4 separate regions of the Homo sapiens genome follow, and all the other regions are linked to region 1. The links come from fine-mapping of genetic effects on gene expression. A gene starts in region 1. Each other region holds a variant in brackets. All regions are shown on one strand. Distances are between the middles of the regions.

Region 1 (5,259 bases):
GGACAAAAGCAAGACTTTGTCTCAAAAAAAAAAAAAAAAAAATTCAAGCAGTTTAAGCAGATTTGGGCAGGAGGCCATTCTGCATAAGGTAGTCTGAAAAGGTCTCTGTCATAAGGTGACATTTAAGAGACCTGAATTGAATGAAATATTGGGGACAAGTGTTTCAGGCTAAATGAACAGCAAGTACAAAGGCCCTGAGGCAGGAAGAAATATGGCAAGTTCAAGGAATAGCTATCAGGCTAGTGTGGCTAAGGCAGGTCCAGCATGGTAGAGTGACAGATGTGGGTGGGGAGGGAAATAGGAACCAGATTGAACAGGGTTTCTGTGGATTTGGTTCTGAACAAAATGGCATGATCTGATTTATGCTTACAAAGATTTCCTGGATGCTCTGTGGAAAACAGACTAGGGAGGAGGAATGGAGGAGGTGGAAGCAGGGTGACCAATTAGTAGCTGCCATATAACCCAGGGCAAGATGATGGTGGCTTGATCGAGGATGGTTACATCAGAGTTGGCTGGTGGTGAATTTTGATGTTTTGAAGGTAGCACTGACAAAGCTGGCTGAGGGCTTGCAAATGGCATTGAGAGCAAGAGAAGCACATCAAGGACACCTTTTAGATTCTGGGGAACTGAATAAACAATAGTATCACTCTCTGAGGGAGGTAAGAACGGGAGTGGTGTGTAAGGAGTAGGTTGCTGAGGGCAAGATGTATTGTGTTTGAGATGCCAGTAAAATAAGCAGTTGAATCTGGAGGTCAGGGAAGAGATCTGGGCTGGAGACAAATCAGTGATCAGCATTTGGATATTATAAATCATTCCGAGGCAGTAAGTGTAGACACAAAAGAACATCATGGACTATGGCTGGGGCCTTCAGCAACTGGGGAAGAAGTCCAGAGAGGAGACAGAAATGGCCAGTGAAGTGAGGAAGATCAGAAGGACCTGGTGTCCAGGAAGTCAAGTGAGGAAAGTTGATTCTGTATGATCACAACCAAAGTGTCAACTCATAAGCCTTATTTTCTCATCTGTGAAATGGACACCGTAACACCACCTACTTCATGGCAGATAGTACTGGCACACAGCAAACTCTCAAAATAAGGTAGCTACTGTTATTCCCTGATGGTTGGCTGCCAGAGCCCTCAACTTCCCTATCCACATTACTGACAGCACCTCCATGAGTCTTTCTCTGGGGTGAGGTGTCTCTGCTCACTCAGGGCCTGAGGCCTCTGGGTCAAATCGAGGTCAAGTGGCTTCAGTGCCTAAGTCTCTCACCCACACAGCCTTCAGCCCTTACTTGCAAATCAACAAAGGGTAAACCTGTAGAAAACATGGGTTTCGGAGCCAGAATTCTGCCTCTTGCCAGCTGTGGGCTCTTAGGAAAGTTTCTTAATCTGCCGGGGCCCCACTCTACGACATGGGGAGAACTGCTACTTCATGGGACAGTGGGTAGCCCAGTGTAGACTGTAACGCCGGCTGATCTCCTGCACGCTGGCCTGGGAGTTAGAGGCTTCTTGCTGCTCTCCTCTTCAAAGTATACAGGACTCCCGCCACACACACATCTGGAACCAAGCTGGTCTGAGAGCCCCTTATAGCCCAGGCTACCTGATGGGGAGGCACAGAAGTGGCAACCCGTCCACTTTCTTTGCCGCAGGACCCCCCGTTAAGCAGCGGGGTCCAGCCGGGCTGAGTTAGGGAGGGGGTTTCGAACGTGCCACTCCTCGCCCGGCGTCGAAGCCCGTTTCCTGGGTAACCTTTTTCTGCCTCTCTTCCTAGCCCACCAAGGCCCACTGGCCAGAACGCCGCCGCGGCCCCAAACCACTCCAGATAACCACCCGCCAGCTGTCCTCTCCGTTCTCTCCGCCGCCGCGCTGCAGGCCCAGGCTCGCACCCGAGTCCCTTCGCACCCCAGGAAGTGGCGCGGCCTGTCGAGGGCAGCGTGGAGGAGGAAGAGGAGGCGCGGCTCAACGCGACCGAAGCTCCGCCGCAAAGGCTCGGGAGGAAGAGGGCGGTGCGCGGCCAAGCGTCGGAGCTGCAGTCATACTCCGGGGACCCCACGACGGCGCCCCGCCCGCTGCCCACCCTCCCGAGGCCCCGCCCAGCGCGCCCATCCCGCCACGGGCTGCCCCGCCTTCCCGCCCTCGTCCAGAAAACCCCGCGCCCGGCCCCGCCCCCGCCTTCGCCGGGGCCCCGCCCCTCCCCTCTCCGCCGGCGCCTCGGGCGGCTTCTCGCCGCTCCCAGGTCTGGCTGGCTGGAGGAGTCTCAGCTCTCAGCCGCTCGCCCGCCCCCGCTCCGGGCCCTCCCCTAGTCGCCGCTGTGGGGCAGCGCCTGGCGGGCGGCCCGCGGGCGGGTCGCCTCCCCTCCTGTAGCCCACACCCTTCTTAAAGCGGCGGCGGGAAGATGAGGCTTCGGGAGCCGCTCCTGAGCGGCAGCGCCGCGATGCCAGGCGCGTCCCTACAGCGGGCCTGCCGCCTGCTCGTGGCCGTCTGCGCTCTGCACCTTGGCGTCACCCTCGTTTACTACCTGGCTGGCCGCGACCTGAGCCGCCTGCCCCAACTGGTCGGAGTCTCCACACCGCTGCAGGGCGGCTCGAACAGTGCCGCCGCCATCGGGCAGTCCTCCGGGGAGCTCCGGACCGGAGGGGCCCGGCCGCCGCCTCCTCTAGGCGCCTCCTCCCAGCCGCGCCCGGGTGGCGACTCCAGCCCAGTCGTGGATTCTGGCCCTGGCCCCGCTAGCAACTTGACCTCGGTCCCAGTGCCCCACACCACCGCACTGTCGCTGCCCGCCTGCCCTGAGGAGTCCCCGCTGCTTGGTAAGGACTCGGGTCGGCGCCAGTCGGAGGATTGGGACCCCCCCGGATTTCCCCGACAGGGTCCCCCAGACATTCCCTCAGGCTGGCTCTTCTACGACAGCCAGCCTCCCTCTTCTGGATCAGAGTTTTAAATCCCAGACAGAGGCTTGGGACTGGATGGGAGAGAAGGTTTGCGAGGTGGGTCCCTGGGGAGTCCTGTTGGAGGCGTGGGGCCGGGACCGCACAGGGAAGTCCCGAGGCCCCTCTAGCCCCAGAACCAGAGAAGGCCTTGGAGACTTCCCTGCTGTGGCCCGAGGCTCAGGAAGTTTTGGAGTTTGGGTCTGCTTAGGGCTTCGAGCAGCCTTGCACTGAGAACTCTGGTAGGGACCTCGAGTAATCCACTCCCTTTTGGGGACTGACGTGAGGCTCCCGGTGGGGAAGGAGACTGACCTCTCGGTTCACGTGTCTTGCCATAGAGCCACTCTCCTGAGTGGGTTTTTCTCCTGATCGTTTGGGCCAAGTGACTTCTCTCTGAACCTCATATTTCTCTTCTGGGATAATAAATGGTCACCCTTTCAAGGGGTTGTTTTGGAAGATATTGTGAACAATGGTAAATAAGGGCTTAATTAATGAGGGTAAGCCCTCAGTAAATTGTCACTGTGTGTTCATTTCTTCCTCTGTGTGGATCGTGACCGAGAGCCCTTCCCCCTAGCCTCCTCCTGGTATGGGTACCCAAAACCTAGGTGAGCAGGGATCTCTCCCAGGGGCAGAGAGCTTGTGTACTCTGGGTGTTAGAGGGCTAAAATATAACCAGTCAACACCACGTTGCCCATTTCTGGTACTTCCGGTAGCAGCCTGAGTCTCAATTATCTTGCCCAGATGATCTGAACTCTGACCTCTAGCCTGTTTCAGCATAGGCAGAGAGCTTGAGTAGGTGAGTTTGCATTCCTCATAGCAGCTGGCTGAGCCTAGTCTGGACTTCTCTTTGACCTGTAACCTACAGGCCCACAGGCCCAAGGCAACCACAGGTTGCTTCCAGGGTTACCACACAGGTGGTTTCTCATTTCTAATGCTAGGTTTTAGATAATTGTTGTAAGTGAGGGGCCCTGGCAGGCAGGATGACATCCTGCCAATAGGAGTTTTCTGTCACTTTCCCACAGAGCCCTGGCTACTACATACTCTTGCTCAATTTCGCCAGTAATTGCGTCAATGTGTTCATATCAAGTTTGGGAAGAACATCTTGGAATTGGTCAGACGTGAACTGTGGTAATAATGGGGGCTTGTTTTTTTAAGCAGATAATTAAATTCCTTTGCATTTGATGATTATTCTGGGAAGCAGACTAGTCCCATAAAATGAAATGGACTCTGCCTTGCTGCTAAGTGTCTGACTTGAGACATGCTATCGAGTTTCTCAAAATCTCTTCCTTGTGTAAAATGTGGTTGTCGATGATTACCTTACAGGGGTTTTTTTAAGACTAAATGAGATCGTGTACATTAAATACAGGCACTCAGGCTGGGCATGGTGGCTCACGCCTGTAATCCTAGCACTTTGGGAGGCTGAGGGGAGTGGATCACTTGAGGTTAGGAGTTTGAGACCAGCCTGGCCAATATGGTGAAACACCATCCCATCTCTACAAAAATACAAAAAAGTTAGCCAGGGGTGGTGGCATCGCAGCTACTCAGGAGGCCGAGGCAGGAGAATTGCTTGAACCTGGGAGGCAGAGGTTGCAGTGAGTCAAGATTGTGCCAGTACACTCCAGCCTGGGCGACGAAGCAAGACTGTCTAAAAAAAAAAAAAAAAAAAAAAATACGGGCACTCAATACACCGTATAATAATAATATAGTAATAATATTTGCTTAGGATCTTTAAAAAGTTTCATTTTTTCAGACTCCCACAGAAATGGCTCTGCACAGCAGAGTGAAGGGGGAGAGAGACTGAGTCTCCAGGCCAGAAAAAGGCCAGGTTTTTTGCTTTTGTTTTTAGTTGTTGCCTGGATATTGCACAGAAAGAAAAAATAATTAGCAAGTTAAACAAAAGTACCGCAAAGTTGATTACATTGGTATTTGAGTATCACATCTTCTCTCAGAAGCGTAAGAGACAAGGTCGTGACCATACCTCTGCTTAGTTTTGTTTTGTAATGGTGTTGCTAGTGATCGGCTTGTCACCAGTTACTGGTGTTTCTAAATGGACTATAATTGGCTACTTGAAAGGACTTCCTGAGAAAGAACATTTTGGAGGACGAGGAGAGAGTGCCTTCTCTATTTTGGCTGCTTTCATGTGACATGCAAGAGACCATGACGTTTAGGCTGCTGCTGAGGCAGCCCCAGAAATGGGGGCCGAGAGGTCTTTTCTTCATTTTAATAGGGTCTGTAGGTTTGGGTGGTTAGGTACAGTTCTCAGAATGGAGGTTCCTGGCTATGAGGCCTTGAGAAAGCTGAAAGTCTCCTTGGGAGTGTGTGGGTGGGGGGAGTCGAGC
Region 2 (5,000 bases), 47 kb after region 1:
TCACTGCAACCTCAACCTCCCTGGGATCAGTTGAGCCTCCTACCTCAGCCTCCAGAGTACTAGGGACCACCATGCCTGGCAAATTTTTGTAATTTTTTGTAGAGGCAGAGTCTCACCATGTTGCTCAGGCTGGTCTCGAGCTCCTAGACTCAAGTGATCTGCCCACCTTGGCCTCCCAAGTGTTAGGATTACAAGTGTGAGCCACCATGCCCAGCCCAGGTCATCTTTTGAGGGCATGGAGAGAAGACTTTGAGCATCCCACTTTTGAGATTGTGTACCAGTCGCAAGCCCCTATGACACACTTTTTCCCCAAAGTAGAGGGCTCTGACTATGTTGATCCCAAGAGAGATGGGAAAGAGCATTGAATGAGGATTCCAAAGTATTGGGCCTTAGTTCGTTTCCTCATGTTGGTGTTGTGAAGATTCTGGTTAGGATAACAGCATGTGTGCAGGAGGCTTTGTGAACTGCTGAGAGTGAGGCGTGGCAATGTCAGTGCTAGGTTTGTCCTTACTAACCTGGGGCCATGGGAATTGATAAGACCAGATTCCCAACTCTACCCCACAATGTGATCCCTGTGGTGACCCCTCACAGGGCTCTTTGGTCGAGCTTCCCAGAAGGGATCACCATCTGCCATTGTATGTTGAACCCCATTCATTCATTCATTCATTCAGCCAACCAGCAACTATTTGTTGAGCTCTTATTGTGTGAGAAGCAGTCTTCAAGGAACTGGGTGAATAAAAAAAACAAAACATCCTAACCTTCATTGAGCTTACATTCTTACTGAAAGAAAACAAATAAAACATACATGTAATCCTAGCACTTTGGGAGGCCAAGGCAGGCGGATCACTTGAGGTCAGGAATTTGAAACCAGCCTGGCCAACGTGAAACCCATCTCTACTGAAAATTAAAAAAAAAAAAAAAAAAAAGCCGGGCATGGTGGCACATGCCTGTAATCCCAGCTACTCGCGAGGCTAAGGCAGGAGAATCGCTTGAATCCTGGAGGCAGAGGTTGCAGTGAGCCAAGATCATACCATTATACTCCAGCCTCAGTGATGAAGCAAGACTCCATCTCAAAAATAAAAAATAAAAATAAAAATATGCATTCCCTTTGCACCAGCACACTTGGTGCCTGGGGACCTCGTGGTTGGCACCCTGAAGCAGGTGTCCCTCTTCTGTCTTGCACACCTTGCTTCTGTCCTGGTGTGTATGGCATGGCCTTCTGCCCTCCATGGTGAGCACTGTGAGGGCAGAGGTTGAGTTGGGTTTGCTGTATTTCTCAGGTGCCTAGGTTTGTGCTTGACAGGTAGATGGAAGGCACACAATGTGGTCATCAAACCTCAGTCAACCATATAAGGAAGGTAGAAGTGAAAAGTCCCATAGGTACCCAACTAATGTCACCAGTTTCCTGGATACCTTTCCTGGAGTTTATTTATAGTGTGTATAAATAAATGATGTATGTGTTTAAATGCCTTTTTCACCTTTCCTTTTAGAGCTGCCTCTTTTTAACAGTTCCATTCCATTGTATGGATGTACTATGATTTATTGAACCAGTTCCCTACTGATTATTCTGTTTTTTGCAGTCTTTTGTTATGATGAACATTCCACAGTGACAATGTTGTTCATAGTCATTCACACACATGCAAGTCCTTCTGCAGGATATATTTCTAGAGGGGAATTGCTGACTCAGAGGTTTTGGTACTCTGTGTTGATTGTAGAGTGACGGCAGAAAAGTGAGGCCCAAGAGTTTCCTAGTGACCATGTGTAGTGGACAAGTCACCAGTCCCTGTGAGTGTTTGGCCCAAAGGCTTTAAGGCATTTGATATCACTGTTTTTGTTTCTGCACCAGGCGGGAGACACTATATTCAATCGTGCTAAGCTCCTCAATGTTGGCTTTCAAGAAGCCTTGAAGGACTATGACTACACCTGCTTTGTGTTTAGTGACGTGGACCTCATTCCAATGAATGACCATAATGCGTACAGGTGTTTTTCACAGCCACGGCACATTTCCGTTGCAATGGATAAGTTTGGATTCAGGTAAGAGATACTCAGTCAGAATCTGTGGTAAACATGTCTCTCTCATGTGTTGACTAGGAAATGCAGTCCTGGCAGCTCAAGAGTGCCTCTTTAAGCTCTGGAGCAGAATGCCTCCTCTGAGAAATGGGTGCTTTGTATTAGTTGAGATGGAAAGA[A/G]GAGACCAGAAATGCCTGTAGTCTCTGCACATCCAGACAAAAACAAATTTTCCCCCCTTTTTTTTTTTTGTTTGTTTTTTGAGACAGGGTCTGGCTCTGTCACCCAGGCTGGAGTGCAGTGCCGTGATCTTGGCTCACCGCAACCTCTGCCTCCCGGGTTCATGCCATCCTGTCACCTCAGCCTCCTGAGTAGCTGGGACTACAAACACTTGCCACCATGCGCAGCTAATTTTTGTATATTTTGTAGAGATGGGGTTTTGCTGTATTGCCCAGTCTGGTCTCGAACTCCTGAGCTCAAGCAATCCATCTGCCTTGGCCTCTCGAAGTGCTGGATTATAGGCATGTGGCACCATGCCTGGCCTAAGAACAGTTTTTAGCATTTGGGAGGGGCTCTCATCTTTAAGCTCCAAATGATACTGTATTTTCTTGCTTTTTTCTTTCTCTTGCCCCACAAGTTTTGGAAAGTAAATTGGAATAGTTTTCCCCCACTGAATTATTTAGCTTGTATACCTCAGCAGATGTTCCTTGGCCTGTTTTGTTTTGTTTTTGAGACAGGGTCTTGCTCTGTCACCCAGGCTGGAGTGCAGTGACACAATCATGGCTCACTGCAGCCTTGACTGCCTGGGCTCAATCCATCCTGCAGCCTCAGCCTCCTGAGTAGTTGGGACTACAGGCATGAGCCAGCATGTCCAGCTAATTTTTTATTTTTAGTGGAGATGAGGTCTGGCTATGTTGCCCAAGCTGGGCTTGAACTCTTGGGCTCAAGTGATCCTCTCACCTCAGCCTTCCAAAGCATTGGGATTACAGGTGTGAACCACTGCTCCCGCCCTTGGCCCTATAAGAAGGAATGTGATTCTGTTTTCCAGCAGGGCACAAACTTCTGCTTAAATACAAAGCCCAAATTTTTCCACCAAAATGCCCCTAGTGAAGTGGCCAGCCCAGATGCCCGACTAGCGTATTATCCAAAGCATATTGTCATTGGTGGAAAATGGCCTTATAGTCCATTGTTTTGTCTTAAAAGTAAATATATAAATAAACTTGTATATTGTTTCCTAATTCCGTGTTTATATTAACATAAAAGTGTTTTAAATTACCTGTCAGTGGCCAGGTGCAGTGGCTCGTGCCTGTAATCGCAGCACTTTGGGAGGCCGAGGCGGGCAGATCACCTGAGGTCAGGAGTTCGAGACCAGCCTGACCAGCATGGTGAAACCCTGTCTCTACTAAAAATACAAAAATTAGCCAGGTGTGGTGGCAGGTGCCTGTAATCCCAGCTACTCGGGAAGCTGAGGCAGGAGAATTGCTTGAACCCGGGAGGCAGAGGTTGCAGTGAGTTGAGATCGCGCCATTGAACTTCAACTTGGGCAACAGAGCAAGACTCTGTCTCAGAGAAAGAAAAAAAAAAACCTATCAGTTGAATAACAAAACCCTTTCCTTCCTTGCTTTAAGTGAATCTGAAGATCCAGGAGCTGTGCTGCAGGTACCCTCTATGTTGGGTACCCCTGGTTTAGGCTGACTAGTACAGTGTGGTTGGCTCATGTAGACAGCAGACCCTTTATTTTAGATACAACTTTTTTTCTTTTTCTTTTATTTTTTTTGAGACAGAGTCTTGCTTGTCACCCAGCCTGGAGTGCAGTGGCGTGATCATGGCTCACTATAGCCTTAAACTCCCTGGCTCAAGTGATCCTCTCACCTCGGCTTTCCTAGTAGCTGGGACCACAGGTGTGGGCCAGCACCCCTGGCTGATTTAAAAAAAAAAAAATTTTTTTTTTTAGAGATGTCTCACTATGTTACCCAGGCTGGTCTTGAACTCCTGGGGGCTCAAGCAATCCTCCTGCTTTGACCTCCCAAAGTGCTGGGATGACAGGCATGAACTACTGCACCTGCTGAGATGCAACAGCTTTCTGTCAGACTCATTTTATTCTCATCATTTCTTCCTGTCCTCCCTTGCTGGGAGCATGAGAGCTGTGATGGGAATATAGGAATGTATGAAGTCCTTCTCCCAGATCAAAAATCCTAACTTCTTGTCTTAAAGGGAGGAAAATTTGAATGTAACCTTACTTTTAGACTCTTCAGAAATCCTTCTATACCCTTCCGTCCCCGCTTTCACCCTTCCTCCCTCTCCGTGTGTGTATCTTCTTCTCTTGAAACACACAGGTTTATACCCTGACCCCTCTTGATTCATCCCTTGAAGCACAGTGGTGAACAAGGAAGGGGCCCGTGATGCCCTAATTCTTTGCCACAGCACCATGTTTGTTTCACAAGGAGCCTGGCAGGTTTGGGCTTGGGGCAGATAGGGGAGAGAAAGCAGCAGAGACAGCAAAACCAAATCATGTCAGCTTGGCATGTACTTCCCTCTGAAATAGCTAAGAATCCATTTCTGTAAAAGCACTGATTATCAGAAAACCTTATTGGCCTGGCCACCTTTGGTTCAAACCCTCACATTAATAATGTGGACAGTAGTATGAGGTGTGCCAAAGGTGGATGACTCAGCACCTAAGTGATGACACCTAATTACGAATAGGTTCATTAAAGCAGACCCCCTGGGGACCTTTGCTTGAGGATCCTTACAGTCAGAATTCCTGAATATATTTGAAAATAATAATTGCATCTTTATTTTCATATGTTCTGTATGGTTTGGCTGACTTCCCCCTCAAAGTCTGAGTTAGAGTTTTCCTTAATTTATGTGATGGGTTTGGTCTTTTTGGATTCCAGAAAGAGCTGGGTGTGGTTTGGAGCTGCACTCAGAGTCACACAAAACCACAGCCTTTAGAGAACCCACAGGAAGGCTTTGGGGCACGTCCTGATTCTTGA
Region 3 (5,259 bases), 140 kb after region 1:
TGTTTTGAAGGCCAAATTTCTCATACCTTTTATAATAGCATTGCCCAACAGAACTTTCTGCAGTGATAAATGTTTTATATCTGTTCTGTCCAACGTAGCAGCCACCAATCACATGTGCTTATTGAGCATGTAAATGTGGCCATTTAGACTAAGAAACCGTATTTTTGTTTTTGTCTTAAATTAATGGAGCCACACATGGCCAGTGGCTACTAAGGAGTGCCTTACTTCACTTAAATCAGAATAGGAAATGGAAGGTCAAGATCTCATAAGGACACTGAGGTTAGAAGTATGAAGTCACCTGCTAGTAAGTTAGTAAGTTCCTAACTAGTGGTCCTTCCACAAGGACTTATTCACAACAATATTATTGCCTTTCCACCAACTGAAAAAAGTTCTCAAACTCGTTTCTGTACAATATGCCTAATGAACATTTTAACTTTCTAATCAAGCATGAAATACCATTAATTATGTCCTTCTGCTTATAGTTCCACCTTTAGTTTTGGCACGCTAAAATCTAGCTGCCCTTATTTTGAACAGTGTTGAGTATAAGGAAGGAAAAATAAAGCTTCTAGAGCTTGATGAAGCGCATTTCCCCAGAAATAACCTCTCAATATGATCATAAGCCACATAAAAGAGCTTGCCAATGTTAACCTGCAGGTTCTTTGTAAGGTAAGTGAAAAACCACCACTACTTTTTTGTGGACAAATTCTAACAATTTACTAAGCAAGTCATTTGGATTGTGGACTTTCTTTTTAAGGAGTTTAAGTATCTTAATAAAAACATAATCCTTTCCTTGAAGATCTTTAAAGAAAAACTGAATAAACAATTTCCCAAATCTTTCTGAACCTTAAGAAGCTCAAAGTGAAATTTAATGGCTTGGCCATTCATTCTAAAACTGGTTCTGCTCATCAGCCCTTATTTGTATACACTATACTGGAAATAAAGTGAGACTGATTTCTCTTGAACATTTTACTCCTATAAGCAGTATTTCTAGAGCCCATAGGCCACTTTCCTGATAAACATATTAAATACATAATTTTGACACAATAAAGCTGAAACAAGAATAGATAGATGGCAGGCAACGAACCAGTTTTCAGCCCTGGCTCTGTTGGCTTGCTATATGAGCTTGAAGAAGTTTTAGGTTTCTGAACTTTAACTTACTCCCATTTGAAAAAGGCCACTGTACCTACCATCAAATTCCTTTGGGGAGTGAGGGAACACCAAATAAGATCTGTAAAAAGGGCTTGGAAAATTATATTGCTATATACTTTGTCTTTTTTTTTTTTTTTTTTTTTTTTTGAGACAAGAGTCTCGCTGTGTTGCTCAGGCTGGAGTGTAATTGGGCGATCTCAGCTCACTGCAACCTCCACCTCCCGGGTTCAAGCGACTCTCCTGCTTCAGCCCTCCTGAGTAACTGGGATTACAGGCACGCACCACCATGCCTGGCTAATTTTTGGATTTTTTTGGGTTTTTTGTGACAGAGATTCACTCTTGTTGCCCAGGCTGGAGTGCAGTGGCGTGACCTCCGTTCGCTGCAACCTCTGCCTCCAGGGTTCAAGCGATTCTCCTGCCTCAGCCTCCAGAGGAGCTGGGATTGCAGATGCCCACCACCACGCCCAGCTAATTCTGTAGTTTTGTAGAGATGGGGTTTCACCATCTTGGCCAGGCTGGTCTCGAACCCTGACCTCAGTGATCCACCCACCTCGGCCTCCCAAAGTGCTGGGATTACAGAATGAGCCACAGCACGCGGCCTGTTCTCATAATTTGTTTGATAATATCTAAGATTTTTGGAAGCAGTCATTTGCTACCACTCTGTTGGCTATTTTTTAGGCCCCTTAAATCTCATTTTAAAAAAAGCGACACCACTGGCTGGGCATGGTGGCTCACACCTGTAATCCCAGCACTCTGGGAGGCCAAGGCAGGTGGATCACCACCTGAGGTTTGCAGTTCAAGACCAGCGTGACCAACATGGTGAAACCCCATCTCTACTAAAAATACAAAATTAGCCGGGTTTGGTGGCACATGCCTGTAATCCCAGCTACTTGGGAGGCTGAGGCAGGAGAATCGCTTGAACCCGGGAGGTGGAGGTTGCTGTGAGCTGAGACCACGCCATGGCTCTCCAGCCTGGGCAATAAGAGGGAAACTCCGTCTCAAGAAAAAAAAAAAAAAAACCACAACAAAAAAACACGACACCATAAATCAGAGGCAATTTGTGGTCAGTTTGCAACATTATACCAACATGTAAACAAGCATTTAAAATGGGTGATTTCTCAAAGATCTGCTCTGACCAACAGCTAACTTTAGTTAGCTGCACAAAGACTAGATTCTTCTTACCTCTCCTTTCTCTCTGCATCCTTCCTCCTCCTCCAAAAAACATATCAAAGATGTCCATGGGGGAGCCAAAACCGCCACCTGCTCCACCCTCTTTAATTGCCTGTTCTCCTCCTTTGTCATATAATTCCCTTTTCTTTGCATCAGAGAGAACTTCGTAAGCTTGAGAAATCTGTTTAAACTGTTTGAGAAAAGAGGAGTGAATTTCATTTTTTAAAAAACAAGTGTTACCTAGCTACATTACACTTGATCTTAGCTAAAAAGGCCGAGAAGTGATCATAGTTACTATATTAGATACTCGATTTCAGGCCATAATAGAAATACTATACGTCTGGCAAAGAACTATTCAGATACGTTTAAGAGTAGATACTATTCACCTTCTCTCCTTCATTTGGGTTCTTATCAGGATGGTACTTCAAAGCCAGTTTCCTATAAGCCTTTTTCAATTCTTCCTGAGTAGCATTGGGTTTGACCCCCAAAACATCGTAGTAAGTTGTTTCTTTCACCATCTTCTACTGCCTGAAATAAGAAAATGCAACTTTAACCGGCTTTCAACTGGTAGCTTTTAATAAAAAAGAGAGCTAAGGCCGAGCAATCTCTTTGCAAAATCCGATTATAAGAACACCACCTTCCCTAAATTTCACCAAAAA[G/A]GTAACAATTCCTGCGATAATTCAGCTATAAACTCGAACAGACAAAACAAATAATCATTATCGGGAAATAATCTGAGAGCCGCCTTCTAGCAGCTGGTTCCAATTTTCCTACACCAAAGCTTCCATACTAATATAACACAACTATTATCTGGATTCTTCCCGTTTGCCCTAGAGGCGGTGACAGTTGTAACCAAAAGAAGCACTGATATGTTCAGTCTACCGGTCATTACACTATCACTGTCTTTGGCAAATCTGATAAACTCCATATACTCTCCAGAAAAAGACGTCTGGGCACACAGTGGTGGGGGGGAGTGGTTTATAGAACAGGTTACTGGCTCCACACAGCAAGCCCTCCACCGCCCACGGCTTACAGCTTCTCCAGCCGAATCCCTCTCGCCCCTCAGGCTGGCAGAGTTTACCTGCCAGGTTTCCCCTTGCACTTGGCGCTGACCGATTTCCTTCCTTTCTCCCTCCCACCCTGGACCCAAGTGGCGGTGGGGAAAGCCCAGCCCTCAACAAACAAAGGGAGGGGAAACAGAGAAAGCGAAACCAAAAGCCGCAGTCTCCGCCCGGCTCCCCCCGCAGCCCCTCGCCCCTGCCTCCCTGTGCGCGTGCGCAGGGTCGCCAACCCCACTCCCCCCCCCCACCCCGAGCGAGCACGGACGGGGAGGGGGGCCGCGGGGGCGCGCACGGAGGGGCAGCCGAAGACAGTAGCTCCTTGGAGATCCCAGGCTGGGGAAGGAGGGAGGTCTAGGAAAGGTCTCGGGCCCATTCACTGTGCGTGCCGGGGATGGGTTGCCAGGGCACCACACCAGCCCTCCAAAAGGGAAATCGTGGGCCCAGGAACTGACAGCGGTCCTACCCACGCGGCCAACTGCCTCCCGACCGCGGCTCCATCGGTTTCCCGGCGCCAATGGCGCCAGCCAGGGGACTAGGGGCAGCGCGAGGGCTCAAACTCACCGGTGCGGGCTGAGGCCGGTGTGTGAGGGAGCGGGAAGGAGCGCCGAGCTGTGCGCAGCCGGGGTAGTTACCGCTCCTCCGCCTCTCACCGAGCGTTCTGGAAAGTTCCGCCCGGCGCGCCGCAGCCGTCCTCTTTTGTAGCCGAACCCGGGCGCGTCACCCGCCGGAAGTCCCGCCCTTCTCGGCCGCTGCCACCGCCCCGCCGTTACCTGGGCAACGGCGCGGGGGCGCACGGGTCGGGAGGAGCTGCGCCGAAAGGCCTTGTGGGTGTTGGTGCTAGCGCGGCTTCCCGGCGCTCGTGGAATCTTCTGGAGCCCTTTTCTCCACTCAGCGAGCCTGAGAGTGCGGAAGTCTCCGGCTGGTGGGGCATGGCCCAGGAGCACTGCAAGTCCTAGGGTTCCCAAACCTGTGGGGTGGCCGCCTGGGCCCGCGAGGGCGGGAAGGGCTCGAGTACAGTGACCCAGCGGGAGCTGTGTGTGAACGGGAAAGCTCTTGGAACAGTCTTGCCCCCCCCCCCCCCCCTCTTACGGGCGCCTCTTCTCTTTTTGGGAACGTGGCGAGCAAAAAATGCTTGAGCCAGGTGGGTCTAGTCCCCAGACCAATAGCATAGGCCTTGGGTCTTGCTGTTTTTCACGCGTGGTCCAAGGCGGCATAATTAATCAAATTGTGAAGTTGTTAAGGCTTTTTGTGCAAGTCCAGGCCCCTAGACACATGTTATCTGCCCTGGACCTCGCTGATTCGTGCAGATTGAGCTCAGTGTGTCTGGGACTGAGCTAAACAGTGAGACGTTTGGACCGTCTTTGATGTACAGAGGGCCGTGGACTCCTCTGGTCAGGTTTTCACCCAGTTTGGCTACAGAGTAGCCGCAAGAGTGTCTGACTAAAACAATTTGTTTAATTATTTGACCTCACTTTTAAATCCTACGGGTCAGGGAACCTGGATGTACAATCTGCAACGTAAGACCTCGGACTTGAAAATGGTACCACGGGGGCTTAATGGGAATTGGGGTCCGCTTCTTTATCCAGGGACACAGCAGGTATGTCAGTATCTAGCACCAAGAAAGATGGAGTTTGCCACGCTCGGTGGCTCACGTGTGTAATCCCAGCACTTTGGGACGCCAGCGTGGGCTGATTGCGTGAGCTCAGAAGTTTGATACCAGCCCAAGCAACATGGTGAAACCCCGTCTCGATTTAAAACAAAAACAGAACTGGAGATGCAGAGTTGAAAAGCCCCAGTTAGACTTTAGTGAGAAGCCAAACAAGTCAACAGACTGCCAGAGAAACCATGAGGTAGAAGTCAGTAGGGGAGAGCCTCCTATATT
Region 4 (5,000 bases), 37 kb after region 1:
AAAAAAATAAAATAAATAAATAAATAAATAAAATATATACTTGGGTAAAGAGGATAAAAGAGTTAGCGATGATGCTGAATTTTTGAACTGAGGTGGCTGTTTTCAAGGAAGACTGGAGGGTGGGATGCTACGTCTAGATATGTTGCAGTTTAGGTGAATGTGAGACTTCCCTGTTTTGAAGTCAAATATTGGACCAGTAAAATCTAGCCATCAGCTTAAATTCCTATGATACAATTTACATACTCCCCAGGCTCAACACAGTAGATTTCTGAATGTCCTCTGCCAGCTACATGCTCCTGCCCACCTCAATCCGAGTAGATGGAACAACTAACCAAGCCAGCTCAGACCGGTGGCACAGCTGTGCTGGCTAACACTGGGCACCACCTAAGAGAGTGCTTCTCCAAAAGTGTGCTTCCCCAAATGGAGCGAAATACGCTTGAGGAATGTTGGGTTGAACCATGTAAAGCAGGTCTCATTCCCGCAGAGCCTTTGGTACCCCGGTGTACACTGTAACCCCAGAAGTGTTTCCTGAGCTTGCCTGACGAGACAACTTTTCCAAGAACCGTCTCAAGTGATGAGTGTTTTGTGAGTCACACTTTGGGGAAAGCGGGCCTAAGTTAGCATCTCCTCCCAGCTGCCTCCCTGCTTTCCCTGGAACACTAGGAACTGCCCGTCCTCCCTCCCTCCCTCCTCTTCCCACTTCACAACTTAGCATCAGGAATATTTTAGTTTTGGTTTTTCAAACATATATACCTCCTTTTTTCTTATCTTGTCAATATCATCTTTTTTTTTTCTTTGCTTTTCCTCATACTTTTTTTTCTCTTCATCCTTTCCTTCTCCAAGGGTTAACTTTCCACCTTAGGAGAATCTTTTCTGCTTTTTCTCCCACTTCCCCAGCTACTCTCTTATCATCTGCTCCAATCTCACCCTAATTGATCATTTTGGGAAAATATGGTCAGAGTCCAGATAACTAAGTTGAGAAATGCTTAAACTCTGCCATACCTTTCCAGTAAAGAATATTACCTAATAAATAATAAAATGGTAATGGGAAACCTGAACCCTGAAAAAAAAGAGGTGGAAGGAGAAACATTTGGAGCACATCCTGTCTACAAATTAGGAACTGCCTGTGTTATCTGTTTTATGGTTATATTCTAGAAGAAGAAAGGGATTTTGTAGCACCTGGTTTTGACCTTTCTGCACTGTTTGTTGAGCAAATAAACCTTATGGGCTGTTAGCCCTCTTTATAGCCTCTCAGCTTATCCCTGGCCCAGACACCCTGCTGTCATTTTGACTTTTCATTCCCACACACACATACACATGCACACACATGTACACACACACACATACCATTTAAGATTAGACAGAAGTAATGCTCAAAATGGAGTGGCTTCTGAGACATTTAGTCCAAGGGTTCCCAAACAGGCTTTTCAGTATCAGATTTCTTTCTGCCCCATTGAAATGCTACACAACCTTCCGCTTACAGCAGGTCACAAGGGTTTCATTCTACTTGAAGTAGGGGCCATGTCCCATTTCCACTTCCTTGGCTTCCCATTCAGTCACTGCTAGGATTTGCCTAGACCCCTGAGGCCAGACAATGTAGAAACTTCTGCTCCATGTCACAGGTGAGGAAACAGGCTCAGAGAGGGACAGGCTCCGAAAGTCACATAGACAACAGTAGGGCTGCGGCTCAAACCCCAGCGTCTGACTCCAGGTTTAGTGCCTTCTCAGGGCATCAGTGACACTCCTCATGGCCAGGGTGCCCCCAGTGTTGCTCACAGTCTGGTATCCAGGGCTGAGAGTGTGCTGTGTGCTCAGACTGCCTGGGTTCAGTCCTGGCACTGCCACTTTACAGTCAGTGACCTCAGGCAGGTTACTTAAGCTCTGCAGGCCTCAGTTTCCTCCTTGGTGGGGAGGGTTATGAGGCATCCTTCTCATGGTAAACCTTCAGTAAATACCAGCCGTTACTAGGAGGGTCCACTCCTGCCTCTCCACTCTCCATTCATCCTGCCTGTTTCCTCTGCCTGCTTCCTCTGCCTGCTTC[T/C]GTGGTGGTGAATTCTTCATGGCTCCCACCGCCTCCTGCTGCACCCCCACTCAGGGCCCGCATCAGGACCCTTCCTCCTATTGGTTTGAACTCCTTGGAGTCAGAGGGTAATGGATAGTGGAGTGAGCCAGGTGGCAGAATCTCAGAGGCCATCCCGGGCCTATAAGCCTCTTCAAAATAGGGCCACGTATCAAGCTTTACACACAGGAGTGAACTTTCACAAGTTGTTATGACTCATACTCTGTCTATAGTAAGCTGTTAACCACTCCCATTTGGCTTATGCCTCTGTAATTATTGTACTAACTTATATCTTAAAATAAGGATATTGAAGGAATGAGCCGGGAGAGGCTTTCCTGGTTGAGATATAGAAGAACAAGAGTTGCTCTTTTTCCTTAAGGTCTCTCCTCCCACCCCTGACCTTAGCTCACCAGCATGGGAGAATACTATTTGACTCCTTGTACTCTGAGACGTGGATTTCAAGATATAGCATTCCAACTTCAACGGCAGCAAGAAAAGAAGCAACAGAAGGAGAAGACATCATAGCAAACAGGGATGCATGCTGCATTTCCTAATACTCAAACCCGGAAACGAGACTTCACTCAAGGTGAAGGGAGGGCAGGTCACCACCTGGTAGCACTAGCCCTAAATTAAGGAATGCAGAATGTTTGTGGGATTGCCCATCATAAAAATTACAAAATGAGTAAGGAATGCAGGCACAGCTGGCCAGGTGGGTTTGTCACAACCATGGCAGCCCTTTGCCCCACAGCCAGTACACAGAACTGGTCTCTCCAATTCCGATTGCATATCTTCTGGCACCTCTGTTCCTCTCCCTCAGCTGCCCAGGATTTTTCTGGTTCTGACCATGTTACTTCCTCTTTTAAACCTGTTAGCATTTCACGACTGCCTACAGGCAACGGTCTAAATGGTCGGAAGGCCCAAGCTTAGCATCCGAGACCCTGACCTACCTCCAGCCACTTCCTCCTCCTCTCCACTTCACTGGACTCCCCATCTCCACCCAGACACCTCTGTTCTCCCCTCTGTGTGCCTTTGCTTATGCTGTCCCCTGTGTTCCTAGTGTGTCTCTGGCTATCTTTTAAGCTTCCCTCCCCAACCTCATTAGTTCTGTGGAGCCCCTGGAATAGAGCTGACTTCTCCTTCCCTGCTGCTCCCAGGCTGCTCAGAACTTTCTGGAAAGGGATGATTATCTGAGTTCCAGCCTCACCCCAGCCCCCGGACTCTGAGTCCCTCATGTCTGCCTCCCTTCTTTCTCTCTGACCACACAGCTGGTACATAGTCAGTACAGACGCAGTCAGTGAGTGGAGCACGGGGCTTCTCTCCAGGATTCCTGCCCCTTTGTTTATCCCTAGTCTCAGGACTCCCTACTCCTGGTCTTCTGCCTAAATCTGTGCCTCTTGGAAGTGAAGCCTCCGTTCCCAGTGGGGCCAGGTCCTGACCCTTGGGAACTTGCAGGATCCCTCCCTTGGGCCTCTCCCCGAAGCTTCCAGCTCAATGCTGACCAGAGCACAGGCTGCCTGTGACAGTCCTTGGGGTGACCTCCCTTATCAGGAAAAATGCAGAAAACCTATTAATACCTTAGCCTTGTGATTGTTAATGGTCACAAAACTCCTTTAGGGTCCTTTGGACTCAGCACCTTTATGGTCTCACTTTGAATTTTGAACCTCCCACCTCCCCCCATCCCCCAGAGTAAGGCAAATGGTCTTCTGATTGTTCCTGCAGAGGGAAGGCTCCACAGGTAAGCACACGATGGCCAGGAAGCAGAGCTGGAGCCTGCCTGAAAGGCTGTGGAGAAATGGAGGGAGGGCTGCCCTGAGGACTCTGTCTGGCTTTGAAGTTTTCTACTGTTTCCTTTTCTTCTGTGCACTGTTTTAGGATGATGGGGTGATAGTTCCAGGCTGGTTGAGGATGGATTTGGAGACAGTCCTTTGTACCCTCAGTGAGCAAGAGTATCTGTCACCCTACCTCAGCAGTTGTCTCTGTCACTGGTCCAAGCAGCTGGTTCCTACACAAGGTCAAGATCAACTGGGGAGAAGCAGACTCCTGGGTCTATCCCATTAGTGAGGACAGCTGCCTGGGCTTATGGCCTCATTGGTTTGGTTTCTATCTTGATCATCTCTACCATCCCCCCATCCCGGCCTTCCATTTTCTACCTCAGCTGTCAGTGCACAGATTGATGTGTGTGGGAACGGAGCTTGGGAGGAGTGGGGTAGGGCTGGTCCTGTCCTGTAGCCTCCCCTTCCTTCGGGCACTTGGACCCTTTGGAGCTTGCCGGGGTGGGGAATGGGAGTGGGAAGGCCAGGGAGTGTCTCTGCACCATCACTGTTTGAGTGTTGCCCCTTTGCTGTGTGCCCCACCTAGTCTATGTGTGTCTCTGTTCTCTGGGGACTCAATTTGCTGGTGAATTGCTTCCATGGACATTGTTCTGGGAAATGCCATTTTTTCTGCTCACCCATGACTCTGTGACAAGGAATGACAGCTTATTAGGAATTTGTTTTTGCATTGGAACAGTGGTCATCAGAATGGGCCCCTTTTCCCTTGCAGCTTTGACATTTGCCTCTCTTTTCCTCACCTCTCTCCCTTGCATCCACCCTTTTCTCTTTTTCTTCTTTTTTGTTTTCCTTCTAGCAGGGGCCTTTTACCTTTACTTGTTAATCCTGTTTGTAGCAAAGCAAGTGGAAGGAGGAGTTCCTCTCTGATCTGCTTCTTATTCTCCACCTACCTTCTCTTCTGTACTTTCCGCCTCCTAGAGAGAGAGAGAGAGAGAGGAATGCCGACCTAACTACCGCTGCCACTGCTGCTGCCACCACCGCTGCCACCACCACCCTGGTAATGTTCACATGTCCTCAAATCAACCCAGAGCCAGGGCCCTGCTGGTCAGGGGGAGGCTATGTAAATAATCCCATGAGTGTGCCATCCTCAGGCCCTGGGGTCTCCTAGGCAA

What was found. PIP is the estimated chance that this variant, and not a neighbour inherited with it, causes the effect.
Region 2: its variant is the best candidate, but not a certain one, in a credible set for the expression of B4GALT1 in whole blood (TOPMed, PIP 0.88).
Region 3: its variant is the best candidate, but not a certain one, in a credible set for the expression of B4GALT1 in whole blood (TOPMed, PIP 0.55).
Region 4: its variant is the best candidate, but not a certain one, in a credible set for the expression of B4GALT1 in whole blood (TOPMed, PIP 0.83).

Annotation. Positions count from the first base shown.
Region 1 is chr9:33,164,302-33,169,560 of GRCh38, reverse strand. It overlaps B4GALT1 (beta-1,4-galactosyltransferase 1), which reads left to right and starts at 2,225. Exons shown (of 6, transcript NM_001497.4): 1 at 2,225-2,803. The coding sequence starts at 2,392. It overlaps B4GALT1-AS1 (B4GALT1 antisense RNA 1), which reads right to left and starts at 2,613. Exons shown (of 3, transcript NR_108110.1): 1 at 2,515-2,613. RefSeq lists enhancers at 1,642-1,721, 1,244-1,808, 1,792-1,891, 1,809-2,374, 5,175-5,224 and silencers at 2,042-2,441, 2,200-2,473.
Region 2 is chr9:33,117,453-33,122,452 of GRCh38, reverse strand. B4GALT1 (beta-1,4-galactosyltransferase 1) reads left to right here. Exons shown (of 6, transcript NM_001497.4): 3 at 1,847-2,034. Among named protein-coding and RNA genes, the nearest start is that of MIR12117, 11 kb to the right of the region's middle. The variant A/G (reference allele first, on the strand shown) is at 2,190.
Region 3 is chr9:33,024,063-33,029,321 of GRCh38, reverse strand. DNAJA1 (DnaJ heat shock protein family (Hsp40) member A1) reads right to left here and starts at 4,049. Exons shown (of 9, transcript NM_001539.4): 1 at 3,939-4,049; 2 at 2,706-2,847; 3 at 2,332-2,509. The coding sequence starts at 2,837. It also overlaps a transcript of APTX not described here. RefSeq lists enhancers at 3,399-3,468, 3,425-4,019, 3,997-4,291, 4,614-5,209 and silencers at 3,569-3,708, 3,989-4,138. The variant G/A (reference allele first, on the strand shown) is at 2,979.
Region 4 is chr9:33,127,921-33,132,920 of GRCh38, reverse strand. The region is part of intron 2 of B4GALT1 (beta-1,4-galactosyltransferase 1); the gene reads left to right. LOC124902141 (a long non-coding RNA gene) reads left to right here and starts at 672. Exons shown (of 2, transcript XR_007061455.1): 1 at 672-2,645; 2 at 3,932-5,000. The variant T/C (reference allele first, on the strand shown) is at 2,042.